3 separate regions of the Homo sapiens genome follow, and regions 2 and 3 are each linked to region 1. Evidence: fine-mapped expression QTL. A gene starts in region 1. Each other region holds a variant in brackets. All regions are shown on one strand. Distances are from middle to middle.

Region 1 (9,891 bases):
TCCACTCAACAAAAATGGCCAATTCCAGTTACCCTACAGTTAAAAGGACAGTTAACAGAATTCTGAATCCCTATATTTATATATGAATCTATGCTCAGGGATGCAAGTAAAAACCAGAAAACCTTATCCTTTACATGCGGAAGCTATAGTGTTTCCCGTTTTTAAGACACAGCAACAGGCCGGGCATGGTGGCTCACACGTGTAATCCCAGCACTTTGGGAGGCTGAGGTGGGCAGATTGCTTGAGCTCAGGAGTTCGAGACCTGCCTGGGCAACATGGCAAAACCCCATCCCTGCCAAAAAAAATACAAAAATTAGCCAGGCGTGGTGGTGTGCACCTGTAGTCCCAGCTACTCAGAAGACTAAGGCACAAGAATCGTTTGAACCCAGGACATGGAGGTTGCAGTGAGCCGAGATCACACTGCTGCACTTCAGCCTGGATGATGGAGTGAGACTTTGTCTCAAATAATAATAATAATAATAACAATAGCTGCTATTTATTTTGAGTCTATGATGTGGCAGATTCCAAGCTAAACATTTTACAAATATTATCTCAAATACTCAAAACAACCTTCCAAAGTATGTGTTATCACTCCCATTAAGTGAAGAGAAAACTGAGGTTAGAAAGTAAAAAGTTGTCCAAATTCCAACAACTTATGGAAGACTTATATGACAACTATTACCAAAAGGATTCAAGATGGCTTAAAAAGATGAACAATACAACAAGATAACATTTATGAAGAAAAAGAGAAAGCAAAAGTAAGCATATAAAACAAAGTCAAGAATAAAGGTGAAACAAAAATACATTCCAAAACAATCTAAATACTTGATATAGATCAGTGAAGAGCATCCAGTACGTGGTAGTAGACCTAGGACTGGATCAAGACTTAGATGCATCTGACGCCAGTGTCAAGTTGTATGCTTGCCAAGTTAACTGTGCTTCTTCACAAACCTTTTTATTCTACTTATTCTTCAAAATAACAAATTAAATTTGTCATCAATTAAATATTTAACTTGTCATTAATTAAATATTACAAAACTAATAACATAGAGCTGAAAGGGAGTTAACGTTACCCTAAAAGCCAAGTTGAATGTTTGAGAAAGATAAAGGTAAGTTGCTTAAAAGTTTACTATCAGTTTAGGTGTTGGAAGCCAACTATAAACATTTGAAGAATTACAAATACCTAGAAAGATTTGACACTCAGAAAATAACTTCACTTGGAATATGTATCGTTATTACAATTCACCTCTTAACCAACTTTTTCAATTAGCCAATCCAGGAAAAAGCATCCTGCTTTGATATAAACTGAACTGTGAAATATTCCATAATCAGATTCTTCAGCCAAGTATTCATACCTCTAGGCAACATTTTTCATTCGGTAGGTGGTTTGTAAATACGTGTGTAACAGTCATTGCTACTTTTTCATCTGCCCTACATTGCCTCCTTTTAGGAACTGCCCCTCTCTCACTCTATGTAATTCTAGTGAGGTTGTTACCTTACCTGCCACAGGGTAGGCTGATAACCCAGGTTAGCCAAAGTGCCCCATTCTGGACACAGCAATTGGTCTAACCTTGGCCTATCAGAGTCCTTTGGAGGAAATGATTTGGATGTTGGGGAAAAGAGTTATTTCTTCTGGATTACTAGCTGGATGGATATGAAAGCCCGGAGTTGCCAGTGGCCATCTTCGTCAACATGTAATGAGACTCAACAAAGAGGAAAACAGAACAACATCCATAACCTCTACTGATATTGATTCATCATCTTCCAGACCTCATCTAATTTAAGTACTCGCTTGACTCAAATCTTGGCAACTTACCATGTAACCTGGAACCAAATGATGCACTAGGTCAACCAGGTTTTCTCTCAAAACCTATGTTTTGTTAATTACAAAACACAGAAAATACTGAATAGTTAACATAAAGTAAAAGGCCATGAGACAGCCTTGGAGCTCTATAGGGTAATGGAAAGACAGAATTTTAAAGGAAAAAACAAGTAGACAGAGCAGATGTTCTTCAGATGTCCCACGAGCGAGAAAAGGAGTCACATATCTCTAGCACTGCTTAGATTCCTTATAGTTTTCCAGTACTAGATGCATATAGGATAGGAATGGTTCATTCATTTGAAATACATTTACTAAGAGCTTGTAAATGTTTAATATATGTGATCGATTAAATTGTAATAGAAAAATATTCACTTCCTCTTTGTCACCTCCAAGGAAGGAGTTGTATTTCCCTGCCCCTTGAATTTGGCCTTTGCCAAATATCTTACTTTGGCCAATAGGAAATAAACACATGATGTGAGCAGGGGTTTAAAATGTGTCTCTGTGGTTGGGCTTGCTCTTATACCTCTGCTATCACCATGAGGACTTCAGCCCACTAGTCCAAAGATTAGAGACATATGGACCACATGTGCATCATAGAGATACCCAGATGACTACAGCCTATGTCGGTCAGCTCCCAGGTGGCCCCCAGATGCACCAACAAAATAAATACTAACTGTTGTATGCCACTGTGATGTTGCGGTTCTTACTTAGCAATAGCTTACTGATAAAATACACTAAGGACTAGGTGCTATGCGCCACTTAAAGACTGTCCTTACTCTCAGGCTTTCCACAGACACTGAACAACATCTACTAAAAATCAATTAACCAGGCCCTGTGCTAGGTGCAGAGGATGTAAATTAATAAAACATCACCTTTTCCCAGGGTGAATGCCCATTCTAGTAAGAAAAAGAGACCCTGATCACATGATCATAAAATAATATAAAGGGCTCATTGGTAGAGTTGGCTGAGGGTCTAACTTAGCCCAGAGGCATTAGGGGTGGCTTCACAGAAGAGTAGTTTGAAATGGAAGTGTGAAGAATGAACAATCATTCACCAAGTAGAGAAGATAAAAAGACTATAAGCAGGCAGATATATACCAAAAGTTTCGATGTCAGAACGTGTGGGGACTTCATGTAACAGCCACAGCTGAAACTTGTCACTGTTTTCATTTAGACCGCAATTTAGAATGAACATAAGTGCTGTAGTTTTTACTATACTGAGAATCACTGAAAGCCAGGTATCATGGCATACCCCTGTAATTCCAACTACTCAGGAGGCTGAGGTGGGAGGATTGCTTGAGCCCAGGAGTTACCTGCCTGGGCAACAAGCAAGACTCTATCTTATTTAAAAAAAAAAAAAAAAAAAAAAGGAAGGGTGGGGGCGGTGGGCGTGGCAGGCATGGTGGCTGATACCTGTAATCCCAGCACTTCGGGAGGCGAGGCAAGTGAATCACCTGAGGTCAGGAGTTTGAGACCAGCCTGGCCAACATGGCGAAACTCCGTCTCTACTAAAAACACAAAAATTAGCTGGGCGTAATGGCGAGCACCTGTAATCCCAGCTATTCGGAAGGCTGAGTACGGGAGAATTGCTTGAACCAGGGAGGCGGAGGCTGCAGTGAGCCGAGATTGCGCCATTGCACTCACGTCTGGGCAACACAGTAAGGCTCTGTATCGAAAAAAAAAAAAAAAAAAGAAGGGGGTTGCCGGGCACGGTGGCTCATGCCTGTAATCCCAGTACTTTGGGAAGCCGAGGTGGGTGGATCACCTGAGGTGGGGAGTTCGAGACCAGCTTGACAAACATGGAGAAACCCCGTCTCTACTTAAAAAAAAAAAAAATTAGCCAGGCGTGGTGGTGCATGCCTGTAATCCCAGCTACTGGGGAGACTGAGGAAGGAGAATCATTTGAACCCTAGAGGCGGAGGTTGTGGTGAGCGGAGATGGCAGCCATTGCAGTCCAGCCTGGGCAACAAGAGGGAAACTCCATTTCAAAAAAAAAGGAGGGGGGAAGGGGGGTTGAGTCCACTCTCCCCAGCTCACGCCAGATCTCATTTCAGTGGTCACTATTAAAAAAAATTAGATATTTACTTTATTATAGATACTTCCTATGATGATCTGTGAGGACATGCATTTTCTTATCCTGTAATACCATTTGTAACAATAGCAAAACCAGATCATTACTGGTCTGGAAAGACTGTCAATGTATCAGCAAATAAATCTTAATTAACTCTGATGATCTACTTAACTCATAACTCTAAAAGCACTAAAAGACCACTGTATGAAAAGGTGACTCAAGGCAACTGCAAACAAAGTGATCCCCAAAATACTAAAAGCACAATCTCAAGTAAAGTGGCAATAGCTGGGAAACTCTTTTCCAAACACAACTGTCAGAAATGGAAAAATGTCCTCCTGAGTAAAGTTTTCGGCAGAAAACTTCAGGCAGAGGCATAACACTGCTATGCAAAAACAATAACCAGACTTCACTTCAAGAAGTGAGCGAAGAATGTGAGTGATCATAAATCAGAACTTCCGTCAAGCTTGCACGAGTGGAGTTGTAAGTAACAGCAGAAACTTTGAAGTACCAGAAGATACCATCATTCAAAAACGAACACACTTTGACTAGCCCACCTTGGACACGGAGAATCTCGCTGATCACTACAAACTACAAGATAATCATTTAACTTTGAGACCTCAGTGAGAGAGGGTATCAGCTTTTCCTACTCCTTGCACGCTCCGCTGTACGGAAGATGCCGAGGGAACGCATGCCGTGTCTCAGTCCCGGCATAGTCAACCACGCTGGGCAAAAGACGGGGCCAGAGGGTGCAGACGAATATCGGTAACTCGAACCAGGCTGGGAGTTAAGCTAGAAGAAACTGGGGAAGGAGGCAAAACAGAAGCAGGAAAAGAGCAGTGGGGAGCGGCGGGCGCACCAGAGACTGGCGAGAAGGGGAAAAGTCCCCCAGACGCACAAAAATGTCTAGAAGGGGTTCTTCTACTTCGATCTGAGTTTCCCAGGAGCTCAGCCTTGGCTGTCCCGCTCCCCACCCAACCCCACATGATTCCTCCTCTTGGATGGGACGCTTAGGTGAAGCGAGGGGGAGCTTCGCAGGTGGCTCCCGGCAAACTGAGAAGGGTCTCCCAGAGCTGCCAAGAGGAAAGAACTGCGAACAGTCGCTCCCCCGGTACGTGAGAGAGGAGTGACCAGAGGCAAAGGTGAGGCGAGCAGGTTCTCCCTTACCTGCCGCAGGAGCTTCCACCGGGCGGCTCCCAGGGGCGCCGAGACTACGGGCCCCCGAGTGGTGCAGCCAACTGCCGGACTCCCGCCCGCTGCTCGCGCGGTCTCGCCGGTCCCAGCGTCCGCGACTCGCGACTCCATCTCACTGGAGCCTTCCACACCCGGAGGTGCCACCGCCGCAGCTCGTCCCCTGCCAGGACCTGCCAACTTCTTCCCTGTCAGGACCTGTGACGCCCGGCACCCTCCCTCCACCGGACCAGGCATGCGCGCTCTCCCCGAATTCCGCATTTCCGGTACTCGCATCTCCTTGGCAACCAGGGCCGAGCTGTCACGCCATTGCACCATTCTTGCTGGTAGCCATCTTGAGTGAGGGCGGACCAGAGGATGAGAGAGCTGTGGCAGGGCTACTGGAACGCTGTCCCTCATTGTTTTAGCCTTCTGTGCTTCATCTCGAGCTCAGAAGACTAGCGAAGAACGAAAAGTCTTATATATTTCGAGACTAAAGAACCCAGGAACCCAAGAAGACTCCTTGACCACAACAAAGATGGCGAAATCTGCCTGTTGCTCGTGCTAGATTGAGGTTACGTAGATTGGCGTGCTGCAAACCAGCTCTAGGCGGCTCTGGGTAAGTTGTCGTTCTGTGGGCTGCGGAACGCAGACTTCGGCTGGACTTGCCTGCGGTGACACCTGCTCCCCTCTGAGAGCTTCAGGTTCTCCGGCCTGCCTTCACTGGTTTGTGTCCAGAGCCGGACTGATTCTCTCAATTTGCGTATGTATGGGGGGTGTGCTGGTCTCTTTCCTTCTCCCCTTTCTCCCCCCGCCCAGCCACCCACCCCTCAGTCCCCAGGTCCTCGCTTTTTGACTAATGTCCCGGCACTGCGTGCGTGTCACCTGGTCCCTCTCCCTGTTGCATTCAGATCGCCTCATCCCTGGGGTGGAGAGTTGCACGGGGTAAACGAATAGGTTCTCCTGAGAACACCCATTTATCTACCCCACCCCCATCCTAGCCTTGCATACTGTCTTCTTGGGGATGAAAGATGGATGGATAAAGGCTGTGGGAACGTGGTGATGTAGGACCTTTGCAGGTCCTTGTTATTCGGGTCTTTTTTCCCCTTTTTTTACTAGTGTCGGCTAGTAAACTAGTGTTGCTCCCCTACCCCCAATCGCCCATTATTTTGCTGCGACATGGAAAGGGATTAAGGGGGGCGGGGGCGTCGTAGCGCATCTGATCTATGGTAAATTTGACGCAGCATTCTACCTTTGATACCAGGGGGCATTTTGTGGAAGACTTCCATAATGACATTCAGCGGTGTGCAACATACCTAGATTATTCCTGTCGTAAATAATAGCAACTGCCATTTATTGAGTGGTCACTATGTGCCAGGCACTGTATGGTCTTAATGTTAAGCTGTCTCATTTTGTCTTTACAACAACAACCCTAGAAGGTAAATGGTGTCATTTCATTTTTGCAGATGAAGAAACTGAGGCCCGGAGACACAGTTAAGTGTAGGAGCTAAGACCTCAACCCAGGTCTCTCTGACTCTTAACTACTTATTAGCAATCAAGGTTAATAAAAGCTACCTCCTGACAAACCAGAGATGGCCTTACATTTTATTTGTGCATCTTGCAGGGGTTTTTTGTTGTTTTTAATTAAAGCGCTAAATACCTTTTTAACATTAAAAATCCGAAGTTGAGTATGTCCAGTATTTGGAACCGAACCAAATTGGATTTTTTGCTATACAGCTTACTGTACAAGTGACCTGGAACAGTTGCTTAGAACCTCCCACAGCCACAGTTTGGCAACCTGTAAAATGTGCATGGTAATATCTACTTTATTAAGTCCATATAAAATTTAAATTAGACAAACAAGATAAAAGCACCTGGCAGTTAGTTAACACTCAACAATAATTAATCTTCCCTCCCCCACCTTTATTAAATAATTAGGCTTTTCCAGTTTATCTTCCACATATATACCAAAGATACGTTCATAATTATGTAAGACCAAAGGGCTTTTTACCTTTTACAGCCCTGAGTTCCTGAGATACCCCATTAAGTCTGTGTACTTATTTGCAAATTTATATTTTGTTTCTTGTTTTGTTTTTTGTTTTAGTTTAACCCCTATGTGTGCCAGAGTCAGTGCTGCATAGTTTGAGCCTGATAGGATTAACTTTACAAATGAGACATTTAAGTCACATCTGCCAAGAATTATGATTTGAATGAAACTTTAACTTACACAGGTTTTTAGATTTAGTTAGCCTAAGTTATCAGCTGTCTGAAGTTATTCATAACCTAAGTGGGGCATGGCCCTGAAAAGGAGGGATGAGAACTGCTGATCTTAGTTACTCTGAGAACCCACTACTCTGTAATCATACCTATAAAATCATTCGTGTGCTGGCAGCCCCAAAAGGAGCATAAACCAGGGACTTTGATATCATGCAGCAGAAGACCAAATTATTTCTCCAAGCTTTGAAGTATAGTATTCCTCACCTTGGAAAATGCATGCAGAAACAGCATTTGAATCACTATAACTTCGCTGATCATTGTTACAATAGAATAAAATTGAAAAAATATCACCTAACCAAGTGTCTTCAGAATAAACCCAAGATATCAGAGTTAGCAAGAAACATCCCAAGTCGGAGCTTCTCATGTAAGGTATGGACTGTTTAAGTTAACCTATTTGTAGGTCATTAAGATTAATTTTAATTTAAAAATAAAGAATGGGTAGAATATCAGAGCTACTAATTTTCTCAGTAATTCTAACTTGATTTTTCTAATTTTCAAGTCTCAATTGTCTCTAGTCAAAAGTAAGTATAAAAGAGTATATACATCGAGGCAGGCAGATCACCTGAGGTCAGGAGTTCGAGACCAGCCTGGCCAACATGGTAAAACCCTGTCTCTACTAAAAATACAAAAGTTAGCTAGGCGTCATGGCACCCACCTGTAATCCCAGCTACTTGGGAGGCTGAGGCAGAGAATCTCTTGAACCCAGGAGGCAGAGGTTGCGGTGAGCTGAGATCGCACCACAGCACTCCAGCCTGGGTGACAGGGAGACTCTGTCTGAAAAAAAAAAAAAAAAAAAAAGTGTATACATATATTTATAGGGCTCTAATGTAATATATAAAAATGTAGGTTTATAAAAAATGATTCACCTCAGGACTTCCTTAGTATGCCTGCCAGTGCATTTCAAAGTATAATTCGGCCTTCTAAATTTCCTAGAACACTAAATTATAGCTCTTAATAAAATCTAATGATACGCTAATTGTTTTATGAATCACAAATCAGTAAACTTCAGTAAAGGCCATGAATTGTATTTTATTTCTCTGTAAAAAAATGAAAAATAATCTTGCGTTTTTGACCACTTGAGTCATTCAGGAAGACACTGTCAGAGTATTGTACTTCTGCCAGACCCCAAGCTGTGGGCGTGAACTCAACCTTAAGGACCTGATTGCCCTTATATAGAGAGTAACCACATAACCACTTTTGCCTGGCACAGCTCCAGCCTACACCTGTTGTCCCTGTGTAATTATTAATAGTGTCCCCTTTCCTCTCAAAAGTGTCCTGGTTAGAATGGTAAATTATATGGTCATCCTACAGTAAGTAGGATTAAATGATCTATTTGTGCTGCTGCTGCTTTGACATCCCTCTCCTACCTTTTACTTCTTATGTTCCTTAGGTTCCTTAATGATATTTGGGGGTGGTATTCTTGCAATAGTTTCACAAATTTATGATTTTAATATTTTTTTTATTTTAATTTCTGGTTTTGTCGCATACTGATTTTTCTTTTAGTCTGTTTTGGCTTCCTCCTTTCTTCGGGTAAAATATATGTATAACAAAGTTTTCCACTTGATCCATTTTAAAGTATGCAATTCAGTGGCTTTCAAAGTTCATCTGTGTTGTATGCATGTATCATAACTTCATTTCTTTTTATAGTTGAATAATATTCCTTTGTATGTATAAACCACATTTTGTTTATCCATTCCTGTAATTGATGGACACTTGGGCAGATTCTTCTCATTTTAGAAACTATCTTTTCAATCTAATTTTTCTCAGTTTTTCTAGTTTTTGTTCAATTTTTGCCGCTATCTTAGCTGATACCTATTTAGGTGTTGTGTGTGTCTCTTTTGCTTTTAACATTTTATATGTTAGCCCCCTAGTCTTCCTAGACTTTTACTGTTTATGTTTTAGTCTTTGAAATTCTTTTCCTTTTTGTAGTGTCTTGCCTTAGTTTAGTACTTTCTTTACTCATTTAGAAATTCTTTATAACTTCTTTTTATTTCATTTTTGTGTTTTTTGTACATCTTTCCTACTTCAGAAAGATAAAATTTTTAATTTCACCTATTGAACTAAATTTTGGACCTTTAGGTTATTTTATTTTGCATTGTGTTTAGAACATTTTGTCATGTCGTACTTTGTCTTAACACTTAGTTTATAAATAGTAGACAGGAATTACCATCAGAGTAACAGCTGTGATATTAGCTCACATTCTAAACAGAAGGTTGACTATTTCTTCCCTCCATTTGTTCCTGAAGCAACTTTTCCGTTCTCTTTTATAGATTCCCACTACCTGGAAACTTTAACCTGACTCAATAACTCCAAGTATTAATAGTTCATTTAGTAATTCCTTTACCTGATAAAGTAATCCTGCTGTCACATGTCATGTATCAACCATTCCCTCTATGAGAAATGATGTAATGTAAAAGCCATGGTCTTTATCACTGAGACCTGGGGAAGCTTTATAAAGATGCCCCGGCAGCTGTGAAAACACCTGTAGAGAAGAATGCACATTTCCTTCTTTCAGCAAGCATCCACTGATTTCCAACTCTGTCCACTTTTATAGG
Region 2 (11,544 bases), 230 kb before region 1:
AACTACAAATCAAATATAATAAATGAAACTATGGTATTCAAGACAGTGGGCAGGAGGCAGGAAGGACAGTTATCCCTGGGAGACAGAATACAAATGAGGTGAGTGAGTCCAACAATTATCTCAAGTTTAAGAGAGATTCCGGGCTGTGGCATTGGGACAGGGAACCCAAATGGAGCCCTGCAGAGTACCAGAGTTGAAAGTCTGGAAAAAACAATGTGGCTAGAGTTCAAAGGACAGAGTATCAGAGAGTACAGAGCTGCAAAGAGTTAGAACCCAGCATATCTGAAAAATGCCTCCCTTTGAGTATTCATCAGAGTATTGATAAGCACATGTATCTGAGAAAACTACAGGAGGCCAGGGAAAGACCTATCAGAAAGGATTAAAGGAAATAGTATCCAGTGTTCACAAAGAACTGGAAATTGTGCATGTTTCTGCCAGTCTGACAAGAAAAACTTCTTAATGCATTGAACATTGAGTTGAGTACACAAAAGAGTTTTGCCTCAGTGGTGTGGAAAAATTTGCCCTACATAAATATTGCTGGTCCCACCTAACAAATCTTAAAAGCAAGATCTGAAAGGATCAAGCTGTTTCCCAGTAACACATCTGCTTCACAAAACAAAACTCAAGAATATTTATTATAAATACTTATCATTATAGTCAGAGATTTTAACATGTTATAATTGATATAACAAGTATACAGAAACCAGTAAGGACATAGAAGGCTTGAATAACATTACCAACCAACTTAATTGACATTTATAGAACACACCACCCAATAGAGCTGAATACAGTATTCTGAAATGCCAGTTGAAGCTTTACCAAGCTAGACCATATTCTAGGCCACAAAACAATACACTTAAAAAGATTTAAGCCATGCAAAATATGTTCTCTGATCACAAAGTACAGTAGTCCTCCCTTATCCTTGGGGGATACAAGCCAAGGTCCTAGTGGATGCCTGAAATCGCAGATAGGACTGAACCCTGTATATACTATGTTTTTTCCTATACTTACATACCTATGATAAAGTTTACTTTAAAAATTAGGCATAGTATAAGAGATTAACAATAATAACATAATAAAACAGAACAATTATAACAATATGCCAGCATCGTTGGTCTTGCACTTTGGGGCCATTATTAAGTAAAATAAGGGTTACTTGAACCCAAGCACTGAGGACCATTAATCTGATAACCAAGACAGCTATAGAAAAGACAAAAATGACCAATGTAAGAAATAAGAAAGATGGCATCACTATAGATTCTATAGATGGTAAAAAGATAATAAAGGAAAATTATAAATAACATTATGCCAGTAAGTTTGACAACTTAGATGAAATGGAAGGCACAAGTTCTTTGAAAGACACCAACTATCAAAGATTATTCAAGAAGAAATAACCTGAATATTGCAGTACCCATAAAAAAAATGAATTCGTAGTTTATTTATTTATTTATTATTATTATTATACTTTAAGTTTTAGGGTACATGTGCACAATATTCAGGTTAGTTACATATGTATACATGTGCCATGCTGGTGTGCTGCACCCATTAACTCGTCATTTAGCATTAGGTGTATCTCCTAATGCTATCCCTCCCCCTTCCCCCCACCCCACAACAGTCCCCAGAGTGTGATGTTCCCCTTCCTGTGTCCATGTGTTCTCATTGCTCAATTCCCACCTATGAGTGAGAATATGCGGTGTTTGGTTTTTTGTTCTTGTGATACTTTACTGAGAATGATGATTTCCAATTTCATCCATGTTCCTACAAAGGACATGAACTCATCATTTTTTATGGCTGCATAGTATTCCATGGTGTATATGTGCCACATTTTCTTAATCCAGTCTATCACTGTTGGACATTTGGGTTGGTTCCAAGTCTTTACTATTGTGAATAGTGCCGCAATAAACATACGTGTGCATGTGTCTTTATAGCAGCATGATTTATAGTCCTTTGGGTATATACCCAGTAATGGGATGGCTGGGTCAAATGGTATTTCTAGTTCTAGATCCCTGAGGAATCGCCACACTGACTTCCACAATGGTTGAACTAGTTTACAGTCCCACCAACAGTGTAAAAGTGTTCCTATTTCTCCACATCCTCTCCAGCACCAATAACAGACAAACAGAGAGCCAAATCATGAGTGAACTCCCATTCACAATTGCTTCAAAGAGAATAAAATACCTAGGAATCCAACTTACAAGGGACGTGAAGGACCTCTTCAAGGAGAACTACAAACCACTGCTCAATGAAATAAAAGAGGATACAAACAAATGGAAGAACATTCCATGCTCATGGGTAGGAAGAATCAATATCGTGAAAATGGTCATACTGCCCAAGGTAATTTATAGATTCAATGCCAACCCCATCAAGCTACCAATGACTTTCTTCACAGAATTGGAAAAAACTACTTTAAAGTTCATATGGAACCAAAAAAGAGCCCACATTGCCAAGTCAATCCTAAGCCAAAAGAACAAAGCTGGAGGCATCACACTACCTGACTTCAAACTATACTACAAGGCTACAGTAACCAAAACAGCACGGTACTGGTACCAAAACAGAGATATAGATCAATGGAACAGGACACAGCCCTCAGAAATAACGCCACATATCTACAACTATCTGATCTTTGACAAACCTGAGAAAAATAAGCAATGGGGAAAGGACTCCCTATTTAATAAATGGTGCTGGGAAAACTGGCTAGCCATATGTAGAAAGCTGAAACTGGATCCCTTCCTTACACCTTATACAAAAATTAATTCAAGATGGATTAAAGACTTAAACGTTAGACCTAAAACCATAAAAACCCTAGAAGAAAACCTAGGCATTACCATTCAGGACATAGGCATGGGCAAGGACTTCATGTCTAAAACACCAAAAGCAATGGCAACAAAAGCCAAAATTGACAAATGGGATCTCATTAAACTAAAGAGCTTCTGCACAGCAAAAGAAACTACCATCAGAGTGAACAGGCAACCCATAAAATGGGAGAAAATTTTCACAACCTACTCATCTGACAAAGGGCTAATATCCAGAATATACAATGAACTCAAATTTGCAAGAAAAAAACAAACAACCCCATCAAAAAGTGGGTGAAGGACATGAACAGACACTTCTCAAAGGAAGACATTTATGCAGCCAAAAAACACATGAAAAAATGCTCACCATCACTGGCCATCAGAGAAATGCAAATCAAAACCACAATGAGATACCATCTCACGCCAGATAGAATGGCAATCATTAAAAAGTCAGAAATTTGTAGTTTAAAAACTTTCCCACAAAGAAAATTCTAGGCCTAGCTGGCTTACTGGTGAATTCTACCAAATATTGAAGGAGAAATAACACCAATTCTTTCTCAAACTCTTTGAGAAAACTGAAAAGGAAGAATATTTTCTGACTTACTTAATGAAGAAAGCATTACTCCAATACAAAAACCAGACAAAGACAAAGAGAAGACTACAGACCAATATCCCCCATAGACATAGATATTCTCTGTTGCTGCTTCTATTAAACACTATACTAGAGGTTCTAGCCAATGCAGTATGGGAAGAAAAGAAATAAAAGGCATCTAGATGGGAAAGGAATGTCAATATTAGCAGACAACATGACCGTCCATGTGGAAAATTTGATGGAATGTACAGAAAACTGACTAGAACTAACAAGTATGTTGAGTGAGGTTGCAGGACACAAGGTCAATACACAAATAACAGTTGTATTTCTATATACCAGCAACAAACTATTGGAAATTAAAATTTTTTTTTTTTCGTTCTTTTTTTTTTTTCTTTTTTTTTTTTATTGATCATTCTTGGGTGTTTCTCGCAGAGGGGGATTTGGCAGGGTCATAGGACAATAGTGGAGGGAAGGTCAGCAGATAAACAAGTGAACAAAGGTCTCTGGTTTTCCTAGGCAGAGGACCCTGCGGCCTTCCGCAGTGTTTGTGTCCCTGGGTACTTGAGATTAGGGAGTGGTGACACGACTCTTAACGAGCATGCTGACTTCAAGCATCTGTTTAACAAAGCACATCTTGCACCGCCTTTAATCCATGTAACCCTGAGTGGACACAGCACATGTTTCAGAGAGCACAGGGTTGGGGATAAGGTCACAGATCAACAGGATCCCAAGGCAGAAGAATTTTTCTTAGTACAGAACAAAATGAAAAGTCTCCCATGTCTACTTCTATCCACACAGACCCGGCAACCATCCGATTTCTCAATTTTTTCCCCACCCTTCCCGCCTTTCTATTCCACAAAACCGCCATTGTCATCATGGCCCATCCCCAATGAGCCGCTGGGCACACCTCCCAGACGGGGTCGTGGCCGGGCAGAGGGGCTCCTCACTTCCCAGTAGGGGCGGCCGGGCAGAAGCGCCCCTCACCTCCCGGATGGGGCGGCTGGCCAGGCGGGGGGCTGACCCCCCCACCACCCTCCCGGACGGGGCGGCTGGCCAGGCAGAGGGGCTCCTCACTTCCCAGTAGGGGCGGCCGGGCAGAGGCGCCCCTCACCTCCTGGATAGGGCGGCTGGCCAGGCGGGGGGCTGACCCCCCCACCACCCTCCCAGACGGGGCGGCTCGCCAGGCAGAGGGGCTCCTCACTTCCCAGTAGGGGCGGCCGGGCAGAGGCGCCCCTCACCTCCCGGATGGGGCGGCCGGCCGGGCGGGGGGCTGACCCCCCCACCTCCCTCCCAGAATGGGCAGCCGGGCAGAGGCGCCCCTCACCTCCCGGACGGGGCGGCTGGCCAGGCGGGGGGCTGATCCCCCCACCTCCCTCCCGGACGGGGCGGATGGCCGGGTCGGGGGCTGACCCCCCACCTCCCTCCCGGACTGGGCGGCTGGCCGGGCGGGGGGCTGACCCCCCCCACCTCCCTCCCGGACGGGGCGGCTGGCCGGGCAGTGGGGTCCTCACTTCCCAGTAGGGGCAGCCGGGCAGAGGCGCCCCTCACCTCCCGGACGGGGCGGCTGGCCAGGCGGGGGGCTGATCCCCCCACCTCCCTCCCGGACTGGGCGGCTGGCCGGGCGGGGGGCTGACCCCCCACCTCCCTCCCGGACTGGGCGGCTGGCCGGGCGGGGGGCTGACCCCCCACCTCCCTCCTGGACGGGGCGGCTGGCCGGGCAGAGGGGTCCTCACTTCCCGGTAGGGGCGGCCGGGCAGAGGCGCCCCTCACCTCCCGGACGGGGCGGCCGGCCGGGAGGGAGTCTGACCCCCCCACCTCCCTCCGGACGGGGCGGCTGGCCGGGCAGGGGCCTGACCCCCCCCTCCCGGACGGGGCGGCTGGCCGGGCAGAGGGGCTCCTCACTTCCCAGTAGGCGCGGCCGGGCAGAGGAGCCCCTCCCCTCCCGGACGGGGCGGCTGGCCGGGCGGGGGGCTGACCCCCCCCCTCCCTCCCGGACGGGGTGGCTGCCGGGCGGAGACGCTCCTCACTTCCCAGACGGGGTGGCTGCCGGACGGAGGGGCTCCTCACTTCTCAGACGGGGCGGTTGCCAGGCAGAGGGTTTCCTCACTTCTCAGACGGGGCGGCCGGGCAGAGGCGCTCCTCACATCCCAGACAGGGTTGCGGCCCAGCAGAGGTGCTCCTCACATCCCAGACAGGGCGGCGGGGCAGAGGCGCTCCCCACATCTCAGACGATGGGCGGCGGGGAAGAGGCGCTCCTCGCTTCCTAGATGGGATGGCGGCCGGGCAGAGACGCTCCTCACTTTCCAGACTGGGCAGCCAGGCAGAGAGGCTCCTCATATCCCAGACGATGGGGGACCAGGCAGAGACGCTCCTCACTTCCCAGACGGGGTGGCGGCCGGGCAGAGGCTGCAATCTCGGCACTTTGGGGGGCCAAGGCAGGCGGCTGGGAGGTGGAGGTTGTAGCGAGCCGAGATCACGCCACTGCACTCCAGCCTGGGCACCA[T/C]TGAGCACTGAGTGAACGAGACTCCGTCTGCAATCCCAGCACCTCGGGAGGCCGAGGCTGGCGGATCACTCGCGGTCAGGAGCTGAGACCAGCCCGGCCAACACAGCAAAACCCCGTCTCCACCAAAAAAAAAAAAGGAAAACCAGTCAGGCGTGGCGGCGCGCGCCTGCAATCGCAGGCACTCGGCAGGCTGAGGCAGGAGAATCAGGCAGGGAGGTTGCAGTGAGCCGAGATGGCAGCAGTACCGTCCAGCTTTGGCTCGGCATCAGAGGGAGACCGTGGAAGGAGACCGTGGAGAGAGAGGGAGACGGAGAGGGAGAGGGACAGGGGGAGGGGGAGGGGGAGGGAGAGGGAGAGCTAAAAATTTTTTAAATAAAATTTACAATAGCATTAAAAAATATACAATTCTTAGGGGTAAATCTGACAAAAGATATGTAAAACCTGTACTTTGAAAATTGCAAAATATTGCTGAAAGAAGTTTAAAATTTAAAATAACAGCAAAATCTGCCATGTCCATTGATTAGAAGACTCAGTATTGTTAAGAAGTCACTTCTTCCCAAATTAAGCTATTGATTCAATGCAGTTCTCATCAGAATCTGCTAAAGGACTTGTATTCAGAATAAAGAATTCTCAAAATTCAATAACAAGAAAACAAATTATCAAATTTAACAGTGGGCAAAAAAAATCCTGAATACACACTCAACCAAAGAAGATACATAGATGACAAATAAGCAATGAAAAGATGATCATTTGAGAAGTTTAAATTAAAACCACAATGAGATTCTAATACATCTACTAGAATGACTAAAATGGAAAGGACTCACCAACCAAGTGTTGACAGACCTTTCCCATGCTGCTGCTGGCAATGTAAAATAGAACCACCCCTCTGGAAAACAGTTTGGCAGTTTCTTTAAAAGTTAAACATATACCTACCACATGATCTAAGCATTTCTACTCCTATGTATTTACTCTAGAAAAATAAGAGCATATGTCTAAATAAAAGATTCTACATAAATGTCACAACAGCTTTATATATAATAACCCAAAGCTGGAAACAACCCAAATGTCCATCAATGGATAAATGGATAAATATACTGCATATAACTGCACACAACAGAATACTACTCAGCAATAAAAAAGGAATGGAAGACTCAAACACACTACAATATGCAAGAATTAAATATAAATAATTATGCTGAGTGAAAGCATGCTCAAAATAGTTATGCTGAGTGAAAGAAGCCTGATGAAAAAGAATACAATTTGTTTGCTTCTATTTACATAAATGCTAGAAAATGAAAATGAATCTATAGTGAGAGAAAGCAGATAATATTTGCCTAGGGAAGGGTAGGAAGGACTACAAAAGAGCAGGGGAAAACTTTTGGGGGTGATAAATATGTTCATTATTTTGATTGTGGTAATAGTTTCATTAAATAGGGAATCCTTTTAACATATATATATATATACATATGTTAAAACTTATCAAATTGTACACTTGAGATACGTGCAATGTATAGCAAATCAATTATACTTCAATAAAGCTGTGTTTCAAAAAATTCTATCCAAGTGATCCTGAAACCCTATCAGATTTTGGAACCCTTAAACTAAACCAAGCCTTTAACACCTATGCCACCTTGGGCAGAAGGCTGCCTATTCTGTTTCCAAACAGAATAGGCAAATCGTACCTCTGTACATACCTCTGTACGATTTGAAGAGTGGTCTCTCTTCTCTAGTCTGAACTTTAAAGAAACATTTATTTATCTTCTTGTATATTTAGAATGTTTTTCTCTGGACCCTCTAGCTTCCCTGTAGTGTAAAATTAGAACAGTCTGAGAGTTGTGATTAAAATTGACTATTGCAGAGTAACGACCTTTGGGCTCCATATGCTTGCAAATCATATTCCCCTTTACACACTCTAAAATTATGCATTGTTTATAAATAATAACACAGAATTGATCAGCAATATATGGATTGAATTCCACTATGACTCCTAAGTCTCTTGTCTTATTTATGGCCTAGCTGTTCCCATCTTCCATCTATCTTTGGTAAAGCGTAGGATCACCATAGCATGTTACTTGAACTTGATCTTACAGCCCTTCATAAAGTACACAATTGTCACTTTTATGGTTTAAGATCATTTCATTTAATCTATAACAATCTTCCAGAGTACTCATATCAAGGTTTTCCTTTGCCAACATATGAGTTTATTTTCAATTATTTATGCATGACACAGAAATTCAGAATAACTCCAGCATTTGGATATGTATTTATAAAACAAGATTCATGGTTGACACTAAGCCCTTCATAACACTTTTCAAATATAACCCCCCAGAGAAGCAGGCCACTTCCTACAGGAATATGGTCTGGCCTACACCACATCCTTTGAGTTAGTGCTAAAATGTCATGTGTGGCTGAATCAAAATCCTTTCTGAAGTTCAGCTGAATTGCTTCCTAAATGTATGTATAAACTGTCAATCTCTTCATGAAGGAAATTAAATCGATCTGGTACAATTTGCTCTTTGCAAAGCCAAGACAGTGACTACCCAGTGCTTCATGCTCTCCTATGTGGTGACTAATTGATTGTTCAATGATTTCATCTAGTGCAGAATCTTTAAAGGTATCAAAATTAACTTGACTGGCTTATAGGAGGTATAATTTACTCCCCTTTTAAAAAGCTGGGCACTAAAACTACTTTGGTTTAATCAACAAGCCTTTTTACATTTTTTTTTTTTTCAGACGGAGTCTCGCTCTGTCACCCAGGCTGGAGTGCAGTGGTGCGATCTCGGCTCACTGCAACCTCCGCCTCGTGGGTTCATGTCATTCTCCTGCCTCAGCCTCCCAAGTAGCTGGGACTACAGGCGCCCACCACCACGCCCGGATAATTTTTTTGTATTTTTAGTAGAGACAGGGTTTCACCACGTTAGCCAGGATAGTCTTGATCTCCTGACCTCGTGATCCACCCGCTTCAGCCTCCCAAAGTGCTGGGATTACAGGTGTGAGCCACCGCACCCGGCCTACTATTTTTTTTAATTATTTCATGCAGACACCCAATTTCCCACTTTAGGCCACTAGACCTCCAAGGAAGGAACTCCATCTTGCTTATCTTCTATTGCCTTATAGAACTGAATACCATGCTTTATGTATAGCAGACATTCATAAATATTTTTTGACTTGAATTTGAATTCCAAAAATAATTGTTGCATTCTGTAAGTAGCCCACAATACACAGAATCAGATTAATTTTAGTGTTTTACCTGTTAGTTCAGCATTCTACTCAACAACTTAGGAAGCATTTTATATTATCCATAAATTATCAATGAAACTGTTTTTTCAGGTGGGACATGTCTTTATAGCTCATTTGGGGATAAAAATTACTTCAGTGTGGGCCAACACTATTCATATGTGGTGAATATAAGGTAATATCCCAGGTCCTCTAGTACATTTTCACAGCTCATAAATAAAAATGTACCACTTCTTTCATCTTACCTTATGAGCAATAAATTAAGGTTTATTTTTGTCAGTCAGTGGATAAATGAATAAATAAATTGTGGTGTATCTATAAAATAAAATGCTAATCAGTAATAATAAGGAAAACACCAGTGATACACATAAGAACATGGATGGATCTCAGAAACATCAGGCTGAGCAAAAGAAGTCAGACACAGAGTACATACTATGTGATTTCATTTATCTGAAACTCGAAAAACAATCCAGGAGCCTGGGGAAAATGATGAGTTGTACTCAAGGAAAGAGCACAAAGGAAGCTTTCTGGGTCATGTAAATATCCTGTATGTTGAATGAGGGGATGTGTGGGTATGTATACAGTTATATATGTATATGCTTATACATACATATATACTCATCTCTACCTATTCACTCACATATGGATATTTGTATACACTTGTCTAAATTCATTGAAATGTACACTTGCAATGTGTGCATTTTATTTTTTGTCTCCTTCCTTCCTTCTTTTTTCTTTCTTTCTTCTTTTCAGAGACAGGGTCTTGATCTGTTGCCCAGGATGCGGTGCTGTGGCTCAAACATAGCTCACTGCAGCCTTGAACTTCTGGGCTCAAGCCATCCTTCCCCCTCACCCTCCCAAGTAGCTAGGACTACAGGCGTGTGCCACCATGCCCAGCTATTTTTTTATTTTTTGTAGAGACAGAATCTCCCTATGAGACCAGCCTAAGCTGGTCTCAAACTCCTGGTCTTAAGAAACCTTCTTGTCTCAGCCTCCCAAAGTGCTGGGATTATAGGGTGAGCCATGGTCCTCAGCCTCATTTTATTTTTAAGTGCAAAAAATTGAGTTTTAAGTGTTGATTTTTAAAGGTCCCTGTCCTGGAGAAGCATAAACTTGATCTGATTTCTTATTGAAGAATCCTCTAACATCCTGAATTTTATTTAAGCATATAATATTAAGGTAAAACTTGCATTAAAAATTATGTAACTGGTCACTTAATGCCTGTCTTACATCTTTCTCATCATGAGCTCTTTGAGAGCAGGGACTGTGTGTGTGTCTTGCTCATTGATTACTGTATCTGATGGCTCCCACCATGCCTCATAGCTAGTAGGCATCCAATAGATACTTGTTGAATGAATATCCAGTCCATTTTAATCAATAAAGCTCCTTCTATACACAAAGCATAGTAGTGAGCAATGCAGGAAATACTAAAATAGGTCAGATGTGAAGAGCTAACAGTATAATAGGATCAATACCCAAATAATGACTATTATGTATTATATGTATTTTAAGGGTTTTTTGTGGGGAGTATCAGAACAATTCGAATTTCCAAAAAAGATCATCATTTTTGTTGAAATACTATGCTGATAGTATGTATTTCAGCAGCCAAAAGATAAAGGAAAGGAATATACACACAAATTTAGGCTTCTCTCGAAAAGCTTACAATGCTAGAAACTGGGAGTCACTTTCTTAGTTATTTCCCCTGCTTAGGTAAGCAATGTTAAGGGAGTACTCAAACAGCTGTGTTTTCTGGTATTCACAGAGAGGGAAACTACTAAATATCTCAACTCTAAGCCACCTCTGCATGTAACTTTCATGTACTCCACCCATTATCTCCTCCAACATTTTGGGTAAGAGATCAGTCACTTAGTCTTTTAAAAGTAAGAACATAAAGTAGTTAACTAGGAGGAAAAAAAATCATTGCCCAATCATGATTCAACAGCTGCAGAATTTAAGACCAAAGAGGAATGTGGTATTGCTGGACTTGCTTATTGGACTATGTGCTGTGAGTGTGCCTTTAAAATACAATGAGCAGGTAACCACTGACCTTTATAAAACAATGGCCCAGAAGTTGGCAGAAAGAATGAGACAGCTTACCAGGCACAACTGAGTGCATTTAGAAATGGAGAATTATGTTTAAGTATCGCTTCATCTATTTTACTATTTGGGAATTTGAATGATCAGCACCAAAACATTAATATTTTTATGGCATTGCACTGTTAGTGAGGTACATCCTTTTTATGCTCTTTTCTTTTCAGAGAGAAAGAGCAAAAATGACACTGTGAACACTGTCAAGTTCACATATATGTATTTGTGAAGCAATCTAAATGTCAAAATAGACTAAAGACATTCTTTCTGTTCTTCCATGTAGTTTCAGAAAGGCCCGGTTTAGGTATTAGGATGTGATGCCATCCTGTACT
Region 3 (11,544 bases), 190 kb before region 1:
TCACTTCTTCTCTATCCCTACCACCAATACCCCTAGTTTAAGGTCTCAATCAGTTTTTATCTGAACCATGTCAACAGCCTCTGACTGGTTTCCCTACTCCAATCCATCCTCCATGAAAATATGGTAAAAATATGAACCTGAATGAATAATGTAAATTATTGCCATGTTTTCAGACACGACTGTGTAATATGGTTTCTGCTTACTTCTCCAGTTTATTCTTTTGCTGCTGCCCCCTTTCCACCCTTTTCAACAGTTCCGAGATCCCTCTTGCCAAGGCCTTCCATATATGCAGTTTCCTCAAAACCATCCTATCTTCCCTACTCCCACCCCAACCAGAACGCCCTTCATCTGGTTAATTCCTATTCATCCATTCTGCTTTAAATATCTTATTTAACAGATCCTAATGCAGTATTTATTGTGTTTTCATTTCATTTTATTTTGAGGACAGTCTCACTCTGTCACTCGGGCCGGAGTGCAGGGTATGATCATGGTTCACTGCAGCCTTGACCTCCTGGGCTCAAGCGATTCTCCCACCTCAGCCTCCCAAATAGCTGGGCCTACAGACATATGCCACCACACCTGGGTAATTTTTTTATTTTTTATTTTATAGAGACAAGGTCTAACTATGTTGCCAAGGCTGATCTTGACTTCCTGGGCTCAAGTGATCCTCCCACCTCAGACTCCCAAGTAACTGGGACTATAGGCATGTACTACTATGCTCAAGTAATTTTTTAAATTTTTGTAGGAACAGGGTCTCACTATGCTGCCCAGGCTGGTCTTGAACTCCAGGTTTCACACAATCCTTCTGTCTTGGCCTCCTGAACTGTCAGGATTACAGGCATGAGCCACTGTGCCCGGCGAATATTTATTGTGTATCAAGTACTGTTCTAAGGGCTGTATGAAAAATGAGGCACAGAAAGGTCAAGTAACTTGTCCAAGACCCATAGTCAACAAGTGGCAAAGCCAGGATTTGAACCTAGGCAATCTGGGTTACTAGGAAGATTTCTGTGCTCACACACCATCCAGTGCATACCTCTATCATAATGTTTAACTAACTACTGGATTTTCCTCCTCCCTTGTCTATCTCCCTCACAAAACAGTCAGCTTCTCAAAGGTATAAACTCTATCTTAGTTGTCTTTGAATGTCTAATTCTTACCCCAGGAACTCCGACTGAACATACAGACACTAAATGTCTACTGAATGAATGAATGAGTTAGCAAAAGGTCATAATGGATAAAGCAAACATTTCTAAAACTGTGTTCTTTAAAGAGATAAATAGGCACCCACCTCCTAAGAGTCTCCATACTTCTTTATTTGCAAGTCACTTAATATTATATTAATGCCTACAACCTCTTTTTTAAATGTTATGTTTTATAGAATCAGAATACTCAACAAAACAATAAAAGTAACCAAGCAAAGCTACCTTATGAGAGGGATGTCATACATTTTAAATTCACTAAAATAGCTTCATTTGATAAATTATTCTTTTTATTTTAGTGTAAAATTATAGTTAGAAATACTACCAGAGCCATGACAATAATTAGAATAGAAAAAGAATGCAACAGTTGACTATCTTCCCATCTAATGCTGATTAGTCACAGAGAGGAAATGCCAGTCTCAGAGCACATTTCTAACAACAACAACAAAAACGTGGCCAAGTACGGTGTCTCACAACTGTAATTCTAGCACTTTGGGAAGCTGAGTTGGGTAGATGGCTTGAGGCCAGGAATTCGAGATCAGCCTGGCCAATATGGCAAAACCCCATCTCTATTAAAAGCACAAAAATTAGTGGGGTGTGGTGGCCCATGCCTATAGTCGCAGCTACTCAGGAGTCTTAGACACAAGAATCACCTGAACCCAGGAGGTGGAGGTTACAGTAAGCCAAGATTGCGCTACTGCACTCCAGCCTGGGTGACAGAGCGAGACTGTCCCAAAAAAAAAAAAAAAAGTGTCTCACTCTGAATGAAAAGATGTCATATCCTCTTAATGGATAAAACTATATATAACAGAGATTAAAAGTCACTTTAGAGCACTTGTATGAGAGAACAGAGTATAAAATGAAGACGGTTCATATGCTATCTACACATGTGGCCTTCTGGGTCAACAGTGAACAGAACACCAGTAGTATAGTATCGTATTGGTCAATTACAGGTACTTAAATAGTGTCTACTACTTGCTGAAGATGTTACAGGTTTTTCAACAAAAGACTTTAATGTGCCATGAAAATTTAAATCATAGCACACATCTAGTACTTAATTTCTGTGACAAGGGAGCATTCTGACTTTGAACTCTTTGGCTAAGCCTCCTTTCGCCTTATGTATACTTTCACAGCACCCTCTTAGTTTCTTTCCAATTATCCTATTCCCTTCCTCTAAAATATTTGTCTCTTTCTTTTAAAATTATTGCTGATTTGTCCAAAGATTATCAGGGGAAAGGGTCCTGACTAAATGACATAAACTTATCCTGTCCCTAAGGCTGAATAAATAAATAAAGTAAATAGCCCAATGGTAAGAGGCTAGCTTGATGGTCAAACAGGCTGGTTTTCACATCTCAGCTCTACCATCACATACCATATGACTTTGGACAAATTACTTAAGCCTCTCTGTATCTCAGTTTCCTCATATGTAAAATGGAAATAATATTAGCAGAACAGTTGTAAGAATTAAATGAGATGATGTATGTAAATCGCTTAGCATGGTTCCTGAAACGTAAGTGCTCAATAAATGGAAAATATGGAGGTGAGTGGTTGCCTCAGACCTCACACCAGATTCTGAGCACTGCCACAGTATTTTGTATGAAAGGACTCTATCTGCATAAGATTCCAGGATTTTGGAGTTGTTATTGACTGTAAAGATCACCAAGTAAAATCTTCCATTTTAGAAATCTTTTCTAGGATTTCTTAAATCCTCCATGTCAAGCACTAGATAGGTAAATGAATTGGTTCAGTTTGCCTGTCTTGTTAATGAGAAAGCCACAGTCTTTTAAATAAAATTCTCTTCTGAATTTTATTTAAAAGACTCAAAAGTAATAATGAGTACAATCGAAATATCATTGTGTATCACTGTGAACATACATTCAAACTGTAGGTTAGTGTTCTCACTCACAAACGGGAGCTAAATAATGCATACCTATGGGCATAGAGTGGAATAATAGACACTGGAGACTCGGAGGGGAGGATGAGAGATGAGAAATCACCTAATGGGTAAAACAATGTACACTATTCAAGTGATGCTTACATTCAACGCCCAGATTTCACTACTACACAATATGTCCATGTAACAAAACTGCACTTGTCCCCCTCTAAATCTATTAAAAAATGAAAACTAAAAAAAAATCTATATGTTAGAAACCCATATTACACTTCGCCCTGAGTAAGCTAAACTGTTTCTGGTATAATATTGCCAACAAAGGAAAGCTCTCCATAGGTATACAAGGTATGTCATATATAGGACTCAGTTTTCTCTTCTGTAAAATGAGAATAATAATTATGTGATTCTCAGGACTATTATGAAGATGAAGTGAAGTGACATGTACAAAAGCACTTAGTACAGTGCTTCACTCTGATGTCTCAAAATTTACTGGGCTGATAATGATCTCTATTCTTCAGAGCAAATTCATCTACAGTGACATGAGTTTTCGACAAATCTTTTCCACTGCTGCCATTTAAAAAGCATACTTTGGTATAGAGCCCAGGATGTTTTGAAGAAAGCATGGCCTCAATGCTAATGGACTGGCTGTGTTCCAGCATCTTTTTGTTGGGAACTCTCCCTTGCAACCAAATGTTAAATACAGATCATAGGTGACCTTGATAAAACTACTCAAGAAGGCAAATTTGACATCTTTCTTTCTTATGCATAAAACTCCAGGGAGTTTCAAGGCCCAGTGGTAATGGCCTATGGAACACAAAGGGCAACACGCACAATTCCCTTTAGAACTTCCAATCCTTCCAATCTTATGCATAAGCCATCTGCTTAGAGTCACCTGAACAGTGAGAATTTAGAGTCTTCATGCTCAGGTTTCTGGAGTAAATTTATAAATACAATTAATGTGACATAGAAGGCATGCCCACGCACTGCATGACACTGTGTAAAGCCCCGTATCCAGTTCTTTGTCTCAGCAATCTGAGAGAATAAAGATCTTGCAGATGTGGGTTTCTGCCCCATTAAACAGGACTACATAATCTTGTGACTACATTACTGCCACGTACTCTACCCTGAACCCTAGAACACCACCTGGAATTATGTGGCTAGGTAGAATAGATGAGACTTTTTACAATAAAACACTGAAGAAAACAATTTTAAAAACATCTGGTTTCCAGGTCTTGCAAGTTGTCATATATTGTGTACAGAAGTTTAGGTAGATGGACATTCATGAATGAGTTGTTTAAAACTTTAGTCTCAAGCCCCATTCTCGGCAGTCTCTATGAAGATATACAGAGAATATACAGAACACCCACAGTTCCTTTGATAACTTGCAACAGTTCTCACTTTAAGTATTAAATGCCTCCTCAATCAATGTATGATACAATGTATCACTGGTTTAATCATTACAAAACAACTTGTAAAGAGGAAGTGACAGAATTTGACTCATCCAGTCACTGCAAGCTTTTAGAGTATGCCTTTGGTTCAGAAAAGAGTGGATAGATGGTCAATAGATCTTGGTAACTGACTTCTCTCACACCACATGGAATAGAAAAAAGATAGACGGAGCCTATAAATTCCTTGGGTTCAGTGTCTCCCTAAGAGCTCAGCTTAGTGATAACTTTATAGTAGACATTTAATTCTATACTAGTAGAAATTAAATTGATTTAATTCCTTTACTATTCATCTTCATATAAGAAATGTTACATATATGCATTTTATATGTAAATGTGATCTTACATGACTGTCAGTCTTTTTTCTTTCTTTTTTTTTTTCTTTTTTTGAGACAGAGTCTCACTCTGTCACCCAGGCTGGAGTGCAGTGGCACTACCATAGGTCACTGAATCCTCAACCTCTCAGGCTTAAGCCTCAGCCTCTAGAGTAGCTGGGACTACAGTCATGTGTCACCAGACCTGCCTAATTTTTTTAATGATTTGTAGAAACGGGGTCTCCCTATGTTGCCCTGGTTGGTCTCAAACTCCTGGGCTCAAGCAATCCACCCACCTCAGCCTCCCAGAGTGATGGGATTATAAATGTGAATCACCACGCCCAGTGGCTGTCAGTCTTAAAAACATATATGCTGATGTTCTTTGTGCTGGTATTGGCTCTTTATCAAGGTATTTTTGTGAATATGACTACACACACATTCCTTTTCTCCACATTTCCCTTCCCGATTCCCTGCCCACATTTTAATATGACTTTCAATTCAGGCAGGTCAGAATGAATCTATCCTATTTCAAAAATCCTAGAACTCTACACTGAATGACGGAAGGATGGATAAAGACACTCTTCACATAACACCAAGACTTTTAACACAATGAAGCTGGGTCTGGGACAAAAATGTATGGCCACAGTTGAAGAAGCCCCCTATGTCTTTGTTCTAGGATGTAAGTCTAAGAGGGAGTGGAGTTTACAGACATCATGTAGGACATAGGCTTACTTACTGAAGTCTGAGACTTTGGGGATCCTTAATCCTTAAGCCAATAAATAAGCAAGAGTATCATAATCTTCTGCCACGAAGTGTTTCTTAAATATATGAGCAGTTCAGGAGTTTGAGGCT[G/A]CACTGAGTTATGATCACCACTGCACTCCAGCCTGGGCAACAGAGTGAGACCCTGTGTCTAAGAAAAAAAGAAAAAAAATTATATATACATTTTAGGTTGGTGCAAAAGTAATTGTGGTTTTCAGTTCAAGACATTGTGGCAAGTGACTGGACAGGAAAAACTGAGTCTTCCTGCTGTGTGAGAGAGGTTCTTCTCTTCCCTTGGGGTGAATTATGTTTGTCACTCTGTACATTTTCAGGTCTTTTTTTTTAGGATTATAAAACTATAATCATAGTAATCTGGCAGAGAATTCCCATAGGGGTTGGGAAGGAGGATGCTTGAGTGATTAGTCACCAAAGAGAGCCCAAAGAAGTGGACAGAGCTGGTAAACTGGTGAGAGAGCCTCAGGCATTCACCAGATTCAGAAGATTGCAATCATCTCTTTTGGCAAATGAATATAGAACATTTTTCTCCAACAGAAAGAAGAGCTTAGCCGATGTACCAGAAAGAGACATAAGATTTGAAAACAGAAAAAGGGGATCATGTTTCCATCTGATCTCGGAGGAAACAAATGTGGAACAGGCAAGATGTAAACAAGATGTATTAGTTTTTTATCGGTGCATAACAAATCACCAGAAATTTAGCAGCTTAAACCATCACTCATTTATCAGTTCACAACTCTTTAGGTCAGAAGTCTGGTATGGCATGGTTGAGTTTTCTGCTCAGGGAATCACAAGGCTGAAATAACAGTGGCAACCAGATTGAGTTCTCATCTGGAGGCTCTAAAAAAGTTCTGCTTCCAACCTCATTCTTCCTGGCAAAATTCAGCTCCTTGTAGCTGTAGAATTGAGGTCCCCATTTCCTCTCTGGCTGGCAAACAAGGGCCACTCTCAGCTAAAAAAATTCCTTGCTACGTAGCTGCCTCCATCTTCAAGCCAGCAAATCCTTCTCCTGCTTCGTCTCTGACTTCCCGTCTCTGACCTCTAGACCCAGATTTAAAGGGGTTATGTCATTAGGTCAGATCCACTCAGATAATGTCACTGCTTTATGGTCAACTGATTTGGGACCTTAACTACATCTGCAAAATCCTTCCACAGCAGTATCTAGATAACGTATGGCTAAATACCTGGGAGAGGGTGTGTGTACAGCAGGGCCGGGAATCTTGGGGGCCATTTTAGAATTCTGCCTACCACAGGAGACACCTGTTATCAGGGCTTGTGGTTTCATGTGAGACCATGGCTTTCTAGCTTAGAAAGATAAAGAACCAGTACAAACCAAAGCACTTAGAGATAAGTGGGTCTTAGACAATGCCAGAGCTTTTAAGGCTCTGGATTCACAGAGAAACACAGAAGGCGTATGTCTTTGTCTAATGTTCATCCTATGATACCCAACAGAGTCAGGAATGAGGCAGGAGGGGACTTCGAGCTGGTTGTTCCCATAAATTTTGCCAGCACATAGAAAGCACATAGTAGGATGCTAAGTAAATACTTGTTGAATAAAAGAACTAAGCCCATTTGAAGGCAAGCATTAATTAACATTAGAATCACAAATCTGAACTCAGCATATTCTGTGCTTTTTTCTTTCTTCTGTCTCCCTAAATCTGCAGGAAGATGTCCAGGGCCAAGTTTTTCCCCACTCTCTACCAGGATATTTAGAGTGATCAGTGTGCCTCTGATGGGCAAGCAGCCAATGAGAGACAGTACTGCAGGAGGGACACTCAAGGACAGCTGTCTTGATGATCCCTTTCCACTGCAGCTTCAGCTCAAAACTTGCCCTCCCTTTTGCATTATAATTAACCAAATTTAGGCCGTTAGAGATAAGGAAAGAGAGAAGTAATGTTATTTGAACTTCTCCTATGTGTCAGATATATTACATAAGCTCGTATTTAATTCTCATAGTAACCCTATGAAATGGGTATTATTTCAAATGAGGAAATGATAGTACAGAGATGGCATTTGAACCTGGGTATTCCAGACCCCAAGACCTAAACATTGTACTAATCTTGTTCCATGCATTGCTAACTTTTACACCTGTGATGATTTTTTTCACTGCCTTTTAAGTTTAGGGTCATCTTTCACCTATCATATCTTTCTTGTTTTTTAGAGATGAGGTCTTACTATGTTGCCCAGGCTGGAGTGCAGTGACTATTCACAGACATGATCATGGTGCACTACAGCCTCAAGTTCCCGGTCTCAGGTGATCCTCCTGCCTCGGCCTTCGGAGTAGCCCCACAGGCATGCACCACCACGTCAGCATCATCTAACATTTTTTAGAGCCACTCTTCTTACTTGAACCCTGAATTCCCAGCTTGACCAATCCCTGCTGAGGTACTGTCTTTCCAACTATCAGCATAGAACAGTTTTTACTTTTACTTCTGCTGAGCTTATTTCCAAGTGACTGCTAGAGGACCCAATAAGACTACTGATATTGTTCAACTAGGTTTGTGTACCTGGAAAATGTCCTCTGAATCCTAGCACATTAACATTTTCTTTGAGGATACAGAAAATAACAATAACAAAAAACCTAAGCTTGATATTTTTCTGCTCAATCAAGTTCTTCCCCACCCTCAGGACCCCTCAACACATTTTGGACACATTTTGCAGAGCCAAGCAAGCCAACCCAAGGGATTTATACTCACTTACCCTTAGGATTTGTGGTCTATGTTGTGAAGTAAAAACCCCCACTAAAAAGGCAACTTTACTGAGAGAGAAATGAAACCAACACCAACTCATATGTCATTTTGTTGTATGGTCAGTCTCTCAGTGTGCACTACACTGTATCAGCATTAGGGAAAATTAAGTGAGAAAAACATTACAACAGCCCAGGGACACTTCTACCTAAATTTTGTGATTACATTTTAAGTGCTCTCTGTCACAGATATCATAAACTGATTAAATCATTTCATGCCTGACCCCTACTGACTATGCTAAGTGAAAAGAGAGGGCTATTAATAACTACCCATTTCTGACAGCTGCCCAGGGGCAACGCAGCCTTTTGCAGCAGTGAAATGACTCCCCAGCTCACTTACTGAATGCTGAATATTGATTCATATTATGAGTGTTGTCAAACACAAGAGTGCAGTGCTGCAGATCCGTAGTGGCAGGTCATCAGGAATAGCATTAGCAAATGTCAGGTCAGGAATCAAAGGCCTGCTGGACTCTTTAGGGATGAGATTTATCGATTCCATAAAACGTGAAACAGATCAAGTACTTGTGATGATGGAAATGGTCGTGGCAGAATGAGGCTGAGCCTGCTCTGATGTAGACCTCAGGAGAGATGCATCACACAAGTGACCACTGAAGAAAATGCTAAAAGTTGGAATTTCCAGGACAAGGCCAACAGCGGCTTTGGGCTAAGAAGGAGATTTTAGGGCTAAATGTCAGAACTTAGATGTGAAATTGGTCATAGGTATAGGGGTATGTGCATGTATGTGTGTGTGTGTGTGTGTGTGTGTGTGTGTGTGTGTGTGTGTGTGTGTCCTAGCAGTCTAAGATAGCCAGATCCAAAAGAATATGATCAGATACTGATGAATGTTATAGACAAAAGATAACTCTCTATATAAAAGATGCAATTTGCTAATCTTACCTCTTACATAAAATTTTTAAGAGAAATTTACTTACAGTTTATTTTTTCTATTCTTTAGTCTTACTTAAAGTCTAAATTTTCCTCTGATAAGAGAAGGCAAAAAATATTAGAATCTTATAGCTTGTTCATCAAAGGATCACTGTAGACTTGTTTTAAATGAGTTGATGATCCCTCCTTTTGAAGATACTTAAATTATATCTGGCTTCTAGATTTTCATCATTAGAATTAATTTTTTAATCAAAGGCTCCCATACTGTCACTCCACTCTTGTATTATTCTACAAGGTGTCCATTAAAACTGTGCCTTCATAATCCCCTTCTCCCCTCCGGTATCTTCATCTTGATATAGTTAAAAAAAAAAAAAAAAAGACCGAGTCTAGAAGTTAGAACACCGGATTCTTCTAATCCTTACTCTGCCACTTATCTTGTGACCATAGACAAGTCACAACCTCCCTGTATCTCAACTTCCTCACCAGCAAAAAAAACAAAAACAAAAACAAAACAAAACAAAACAAAAACTGCATGTGTACTAGCTCTGAGAAAGGTTTTATACAGAGGATCAATAATAGACCATAAGTTCCACGAGGAAGAGCAGGGTACATGTATTATGACTCATTTTGATGTTCTCAATGCCTAGTAAAGAGACAGGCTCAGAGTAGTAACTGATTTTTTAATTTAAATAAAAGATGGATATACTTGGGGACTGTAAAGGTTTACTAAGTTTTATGTTTCTCTTATTATATGTTTATTTGCTAAGTGTAGTACTTGGTCTAGCATCACTGGGAATGTTTTGGAACTCGCATTGCTAATGGTGGTTTGCAGAAGCAATCCTTTCACCTCTCCTAAGAGCAGGACACAATGTTTTCTTTAATTTTGCCCCATACCGTGACAGAGCCTTGAGGTCTATGTAAGGGAAAGCTAGCAGCTGCTAAGTTCTAATTCTGTTTATTATATCTGAATAGGTAAATGTAAGTTGGTTGTCATCTAAAGCTTGAAAGAGTTTCTGCTCTCTATGGAAAATTTGCTGTTTGGACCAGTGTATTATGTCCTCATTGATTAGCTTTTATCTAAAAAGTAAATTTCAGAAAATTAAACAAAATTATTCTTTAAAAAATTATTTATAATAACCTAGTCATCATTGGATTACATCAGATAATTCTACCTCTTAAATAAAATTTTTAAAGGAAATGTACTTACAGTTTATTTTTTCTATTCTTTAGTCTTAAAGTCTAAATTTTCCTCTGATAAGAAAAGGCAAAAAATATTAGAATCTTATAGCCTGCCCATCAAAGAATCACTCTAGTCTTGTTTTAAATGGGTTGATGAGAGAAAATGAACAGGTGCTACAGATTACTTGGCTGATCTAAAATTAAAGATTGATATTTTTCCTCTTGTTCTATTAGCAGACCTTTAGTGACATGTTAGCACTGGATAATGGTTGCAGCAGTTTAAGCCTCATGCTGTGATTTTTAACAGAAAGCCTAGCTACAGCAGCAAACAATGACATCTCCCCAAAGCTAGTAACCTAATAAGGAAGCAGTTGCAGCCTTAGGCAGTTTGACTAAACAGCAAGAGAAATCTGACTTCCAATGTACTGACTCCACTTTAAAGACAATGGCCTGGCTTAATTAACACTGTATTCATTTGTAACTCAATCAATTGTAGAATTTTTGTCCTTTAACCATTGACTCTACCAGCTCAAAAAGAAAAAGAAGGCTCAAGCTGCTGGAAGTCTTGATTTGTATAAACAGGCATTTCTGAACCAGTGACAAAATAAATAACCCTTGGCATTAATTGCTAACTTTCCCAAATGTCCAGGTAATCACTGAAATAATCATTGACACAGGAAAAGAATTTCATTGACTATTTTAGGTATAAACATGGGATGTATTTAACATAATACCAAAATTTAAATGTTTTTCTCATACTCCTCTTTTGGGGAGCACTAAATTAAGAACATTAAGCCTACTCAAAAACGTCTTTTTCAAATTATTTTTCCAAGAGTAGTATAGTAGATTTTTGTCCAGAAAGTGTATGGAATCTCATAAACTTCATTTGACCTATCTTAGCCCCTGAGCTTTGGTTAAACCAATATTTGCTACCTTCTGAACAGAAACTAAAATAAATGCTAACTCGACCAGGTTATCCTACATTAACTTTGATTTTCTAAATACATCTGTCAACAGACAATGAAAGTTAAATAGATAAATGCTACTAAAATAGTATTCTGGCTTTCATAAGTGAGGATACAATTTCCAGAGAAATAAAATACATGATTAC

Direction of the effects. Alleles are on the strand shown, and positions count from the first base shown. SD is a standard deviation of normalised expression in the study named. Not every link is listed here.
As copies of C replace T in region 2, the expression in thyroid of the gene that starts at base 5,255 in region 1 goes up (moderate effect, 0.41 SD a copy in GTEx).

What was found.
Region 2: its variant is fine-mapped to the expression of CAMKMT in thyroid (GTEx, PIP 0.97).
Region 3: its variant is fine-mapped to the expression of CAMKMT in whole blood (TOPMed, PIP above 0.99).

Annotation. Positions count from the first base shown.
Region 1 is chr2:44,357,311-44,367,201 of GRCh38, reverse strand. CAMKMT (calmodulin-lysine N-methyltransferase) reads right to left here and starts at 5,255. Exons shown (of 11, transcript NM_024766.5): 1 at 5,057-5,255. The coding sequence starts at 5,194. It overlaps PREPL (prolyl endopeptidase like), which reads left to right and starts at 5,708. Exons shown (of 14, transcript NM_001171613.2): 1 at 5,708-5,822. RefSeq lists enhancers at 4,548-5,441, 5,160-5,629, 4,866-6,065, 5,442-6,336.
Region 2 is chr2:44,582,128-44,593,671 of GRCh38, reverse strand. All of the region lies in intron 3 of CAMKMT (calmodulin-lysine N-methyltransferase), which reads right to left. Among named protein-coding and RNA genes, the nearest start is that of CAMKMT, 230 kb to the right of the region's middle. RefSeq lists an enhancer at 3,751-4,450. The variant T/C (reference allele first, on the strand shown) is at 5,888.
Region 3 is chr2:44,543,770-44,555,313 of GRCh38, reverse strand. All of the region lies in intron 3 of CAMKMT (calmodulin-lysine N-methyltransferase), which reads right to left. Among named protein-coding and RNA genes, the nearest start is that of CAMKMT, 190 kb to the right of the region's middle. RefSeq lists a silencer at 1,530-1,824 and an enhancer at 10,480-11,258. The variant G/A (reference allele first, on the strand shown) is at 5,702.